Linked DNA regions of Homo sapiens: region 1 is linked to region 2. The links come from fine-mapping of genetic effects on gene expression. Tissue or cell type: whole blood. Region 2 holds a variant in brackets; the other region holds the start of a gene. Each region is shown on its reference strand, or each on the opposite one.

Region 1 (2,901 bases), not on the chromosome of region 2:
TTTCCAACTAGGGGAGAGAGAGAAAGAGGAAACTGCTTGGGAGAAGCAAATTACGGGCAGCCTTGCCCACTGGTAATGAGAAGAGGGCGACAGGGAGGGGAGAAGAGGGCAAAGGGGAGAGCTGAGGGCAGGTGGGGAGAGGAATTGTTCACCATTCTCTGCCATAAAGTGACTGATGTGCTGTACCAAGGCTGCCTTACAGCTTTTCCTTAAGATCAAGAAGTTCCTATGGCCTCCTCCCCAACCCCATCCTCCTTCTTGCCCGAGAAGCAACTGCTTTTATGAATTTGTGGTATCTCCTGTCCCTGTTTTAAACCTCGAGAACCAACAGTGTTATCCAAAACAACATGGTATTGATTTTGTGGTGGTTTTTAGAGTTTATGTAAGTGGCATCAAACTATACATGGCATTCTGTAACTTGCTTCTTCTACCATGTGATCGTTGGCTTTTCTAGATGCATCCATGTTCAAATGTGTAGCTTTAGTTCATTTGTTTTTAACTGCATGAATATATCATAGCTTATTCACTTAAAAGAAACTGAAGACAGTGTTCATGAGTAGGAAAAGGAGAATCAGACAGCCGTGGGATCAATCCTCACGCCCACCTTTAATTGCCGTGTCTGGCGAAGGCCTGTCCCCTTTCTGAATCATCCATGCAGATAACCCCGCACGTCACAAGTGAGTTGTGTGGTTGAAATAAGGCAGTGTCGGAGAAAGCACCTAAAGCAATGTCTATCACATAGCAAGTTCATTACTGGTAGTTCCCTTTCTTTTTCCCCACTGATTAGCAGGGAGAGGTGGTGGTAAAAAGCTAGATTTAGTGTAACGGCTTTTTAAAAAAATATTTTAATTCCCTTTTTAAGAGACAGGGCCTCACTCTGTCACCAGGCTGGAGTGCAGTGGTACAATTATATCTCAAGGCAGACTTGAACTCCCGGGCTCAAGCAATCCTCCTGTCTCAGGCTTCCAAGTAGTTAGGACTACAGGCACATGCCACCATGCCCGGCTGGCTTTTTTTATTTTTGGTAGAGATGGAGCCTCGCTATGCTGCCCAGGCTGGTCTCAAACTCTTGGCCTTAAGTGATCCTCTTGCCTCAGCCTCCCCAGTAGCTGGGATTACAGGAATGAGCCACTGCACCTAGCTGAAATTTTTAAGAAGGTGGATCTCCTCTGCAGACTTATTTCTCTACCCAGCCTTTACAATCATGCAAAGATCAACTCAAGGCCAGGACAGATGAGTTCCAATCTATGGAGCACTGACCCTACCAGTGCAGGCAGTAGGGTTGCCCTTCACTTCTCAGCTGCATTGCTTCCTCTTCAGACCTCTCTTCTCAAAGGACCTGCCCCCAGCCAGTCATCCTCTGCCCAGCTTTTCTGGTCCCAAGCTTGTAGCCAGCTCCTCCAGAGAGGTTTCACCCAGTCACGGAAACTCTGTGGCCTGAGGTTTAGGGAGGTCTGGTAGAGGTAACTCCCTGGAAGAGGCTGCTGCTGAGAACTGCCTGAAACTCCCACTTCCTCTGTGACTGCAGGTTTCCAACCACAAGCACCAAAGCAGAGGGGCAGGCAGCACACCACCCAGCAGCCAGAGCACCAGCCCAGCCATGGTCCTTGAGGTAAGTGCTGCTGCCCAGCCAGGCCAGGCCAGAATTCGAAGTGGAAAACCCGGGGCATCAGGGGAATGCCAGGGCTGGCCCACAGCCCAGGGTCACCACAGGGTTGGGTGAGTAGCTGGAGGCCGCATGGGTTGTGGCAGAAACAGCACTGGGGAATTGGGAACCCAGCTTGGCCACTGACCCTGGGTGCCTCTCCTCTCCTCTCTGGCTTCGGTGTCTCGTCTGCAAAATGGGGGGGGCGGGGGGCAAGTAGACTCGAAGGCTCCCTTCAGGAGACTTGGAACTTTGACTCTTGGCGTGCTGGACTAAATTGGTACTGGGGAGACCTGCAGGTCCATAGTGCTGGGGGTGAGGGGATAAAGAAGATTCCTTCTCAAGCTAAGTGGGGGATCCCCTTGTGGGCAGCTAAATGGCCGTGCAAGCCTCAGTGTAGGGAGGGGGAAGGACTGGGCAGACTGCATGCATTTGGGGGGCGTGGTGACTTGTAGAGAGGCCACACGGTGGGGGGGGGCGCAGGAAGTTGGGGTCCCCGGACAAGGGCCAAGGAGGGAAGAGGAGGGTTAGTGACTGGAAAAGGGGATTGTGGAGAGGCGCTGGGGAGGAAGGTGGTTGAACTATGTGTTGGGGGTGGGGCACTGAGGACGCAAGGCAAGCCTGAAGGGAGAGCAGGGAGAGAGAGGACAGTGGGCAGAGAGGGCTCTGGGCACTGGAGGGACGCTCTTCTTCCTGCCCAGGGGTCCCTGGGCCGATGGGATCACGCAGAAGAATGCGAGAGAAGCAGCCTTTGAGAAGGGAAGTCACTATCCCAGAGCCCAGGCTGAGCGGATGGAGTTGAGGAAGTACGGCCCTGGAAGACTGGCGGGGACAGTTATAGGAGGAGCTGCTCAGAGTAAATCACAGACTAAATCAGACTCAATCACAAAAGAGTTCCTGCCAGGCCTTTACACAGCCCCTTCCTCCCCGTTCCCGCCCTCACAGGTGAGTGACCACCAAGTGCTAAATGACGCCGAGGTTGCCGCCCTCCTGGAGAACTTCAGCTCTTCCTATGACTATGGAGAAAACGAGAGTGACTCGTGCTGTACCTCCCCGCCCTGCCCACAGGACTTCAGCCTGAACTTCGACCGGGCCTTCCTGCCAGCCCTCTACAGCCTCCTCTTTCTGCTGGGGCTGCTGGGCAACGGCGCGGTGGCAGCCGTGCTGCTGAGCCGGCGGACAGCCCTGAGCAGCACCGACACCTTCCTGCTCCACCTAGCTGTAGCAGACACGCTGCTGGTGCTGACACTGCCGCT
Region 2 (2,901 bases):
GGTTGAGGGATGCTGTCCTAAGGCTGAAACAAAACAGAGGCATAAACTGTGCTAAGCCCTCTTTCCTCTACTCCCAGCCACTTACACCTGCCCTTTCCTCCCTCTGGCTTAGTGGCTCATCCACAAAGTGTCCTTCAGGTCCATCCTCAGCCTCCACTCAGGGCCTGGGGCCAAAAGAGAGCCCCTCTGTTCATAAGACTCACATATTAGAAAGGGACAGGCTTCCCCTCCTGATACCCATATACCATTCCCTGGGTACCTGAGCGCTGGGATAAGCCAGGCCCTTGGAGATCTGGGATCACAAAGATAAATTAGGGTCAGTCCCTGCCCCCAAAGAGCTCCTAGCAAAGTGACCCCCTCAGCCCTCTTGCTCCTGGGGTGTAGACTCACAACACACCACGTGCACACACGCCATCATCCACGCATGTGCACACACACCCCATGCAGAGCTATGCTAGGGAAATCTCTGCGATCCAGTCCCTGCAGCCCCACCGCCTGCTCTTGCCCCACATCCAGCATCCCAGAGCTCCTTCAGCATCTGACTCTGCCCACCCCGCGTGCCCTGAATCCCCTCCCCCTCTGGGCCCAGACTGCCAGTCCTTCAGAGGGCATGGCCGGAACCATCAGATTAACAGCCAGAGAGGGGGGAAGGGGAGGGACAAGCACCTGTAGAACCCCCCCGCCCCGTGACAGCTGCAGGAGTTCCGAGTCCCCAGCACCCAGCACCAGGTGGTCAGTGTGAACACAGAACAGAGGGCTCCTCCCAAGGTCAAGGGCTCCAGGCTCTCATCTGCAGGCTGGGTCACCCTTCCCCACACACCCCCCACCAAGCCTGAGCGGCCCTTACCCCTGGGCTCCAGGCCAGGCCTGGGTGCCTTTCAGTCCTCCTTCTCCGTGGCATCTTATTTTGAATCATCTATCCTCTCTCTATCTCTAGCTGCTCTCACCCCTGCCAGCATTTCACATAAGACCCACACCCTCCATGCACACCCACGCATGCAGTAGGCCGCCCCCGCTGCACTCCCAGGCTAGGGCTCCTGCGCCCTCCTGAAGGGATATTCAGACATCAGGTACTTGGGTAACTCTGTTATCAGGAGGGCATGCCACAGTATGGATGGGCAAGCCCAAGCTTCAGGAGGCACTGGGGAGAGGCTGTGCCCCCACCCTTCCTGCCTCTCAGCAGACAGGCCCTTAATCTCAGGCAGGAAGCAGGGTCTGGTTACCAGGAGTTGGGCTGGGGAGGCGGGAAATATCCAGGGCTTTGGGTAAAAGGAGCTGGGAGAGGAGGGAAGAAAAAGAAGAGCCAAGGAAAAGGGACTTGGAGGGA[G/A]GGCACAGGCTGAGGGGTTAACCCCCACGCTGCCAAGCTCCTCTCTGCTTCCCATCTTGCCATCTTGGCATGACTTCCTGGCACAGTCAGGCTCTGCCAGGCCAGGCCTCGCTGTCCTTCAGAGGGCCACCCACCCCCTGGGGCCTCCTCTCTCCCCAAGGTTCTCTCTGGCTTCCTGGGATCTGTGGGCAGCCCTGTGTGCCCATGTCTCTCAGGGCTCCTGAGTGTCTGGGTTCCTCTGGTCTGATTCGGCCCCTCTCTGGGTCCCTGTGTTTTTGCCTGCGTCTTGTGTATCCTCTTTACGTCCACTCCTATCCCTGGGACCTGTGAGAGGTCTGCACGCTGGTCCTGAGTGTAGGTTCTGTGCCTCTGTCTGCGTCTCTGTGTCTGTCTGTTACCTGTGGGCCTCGGAACTTGCCTTGTCTCTGTAGCGTGTTTGTGTCTGTCTCTGCATCTTCATGTCACTGTCCGTGTCTCCAGGGCTATCCAGCGCTCCATGTATCTCCTGCATGTCTATCTGTCCATCTGGGACTAGGCCTCATCTGTGAGTTGGCTCTGGCCTTCCTGTGTCTGGCCTAGAGCTTTTTGCCTTGTCCACCTGGTTAATGTCTCAGGGTGCGGGTGAGACAGAGCAGACTTACGGACTTGGTTAGGGATGAATGAGAGAGGAAGAGGGAAAAGGGCATGGGTGGTATTGGGGGAAAGAGTCCCATTCCTAAATAGTGCCTGAAGCAAGCTGCCCAGCCCTGAAATGCCAGGGTGAAGCTCTGTGTGGCCAGGGGGCAAGGGAGAGAGGGCATGGCAGGGAACACACCTGCTCAGGGCTGGCAGCGGAGTTGCACAGAAACAGAAACAGACCTAGTTGGTATGTGGGGGTGGGCCCTCTACATACCAGAAACAGGACCCAGAAACAGGTGGAAAGACAAACATGGAACTCTAGGTTCTGATTCTGGCTCCGCCACTGGCGTAGATCACCTTGGGCTAGGCCCTTTCCCTCTGTGTGTCGCAGTTTTCTGCTCTGTAAAATGAGACAGCAAGGACCATCCCCTAGAATTCTGTTAGAGAGCCAGAGTGACAGAAGACATCCCTAAACCCAGGACAGAAGACTAGTTGCCCCTTTCTGTCCCTTAAGGAGGTATCCCAAAGACCCTTATAGTACCAACAGCCTCTGTGTCTGCGATTCAGCACCACTAGGGGCAGGACAGAGGGAAGAATGGAGGTTAGACAGCAGGAAGGACTTCCTGCCAAGCAGTGGGAGGGTGAGGAGGCCCCAGCTTCTCCCAGCAGTCCTCCAGGGCCCCTCTGTCAGGGCTAGGGGTGGAGGGGCAGGAGTGGGGGGCGTTCAGCAGCTGGGTAATTAGCCATCGCTCTCAGGCCCTGCGGGGAGGGGCTGGCTGGACTGAGAAACCAACGCAAAGTGACAGGGGTGGTTTTGACACGCGGTGGAGCTGACGGGCCCAGGGGGCTGGGGGTTTGGTTTGGGGGGGAAAAATCCCATCAAATGATTAAAAAATAGGTCAGAGGGAAGAAGCCACAGCCGGCACTGGGTCCGTGGTGAGAACGCCATGTCGCTT

Evidence for each region. PIP is the estimated chance that this variant, and not a neighbour inherited with it, causes the effect.
Region 1: it holds the start of CXCR3, and the variant in region 2 is the best candidate, but not a certain one, in a credible set for the expression of CXCR3 in whole blood (TOPMed, PIP 0.68).

The regions. Positions count from the first base shown.
Region 1 is chrX:71,617,149-71,620,049 of GRCh38, reverse strand. It overlaps CXCR3 (C-X-C motif chemokine receptor 3), which reads left to right and starts at 1,539. Exons shown (of 2, transcript NM_001504.2): 1 at 1,539-1,612; 2 at 2,591-2,901. The coding sequence starts at 1,601.
Region 2 is chr17:47,725,555-47,728,455 of GRCh38, reverse strand. No RefSeq gene overlaps it. Among named protein-coding and RNA genes, the nearest start is that of TBX21, 6.2 kb to the left of the region's middle. The variant G/A (reference allele first, on the strand shown) is at 1,328.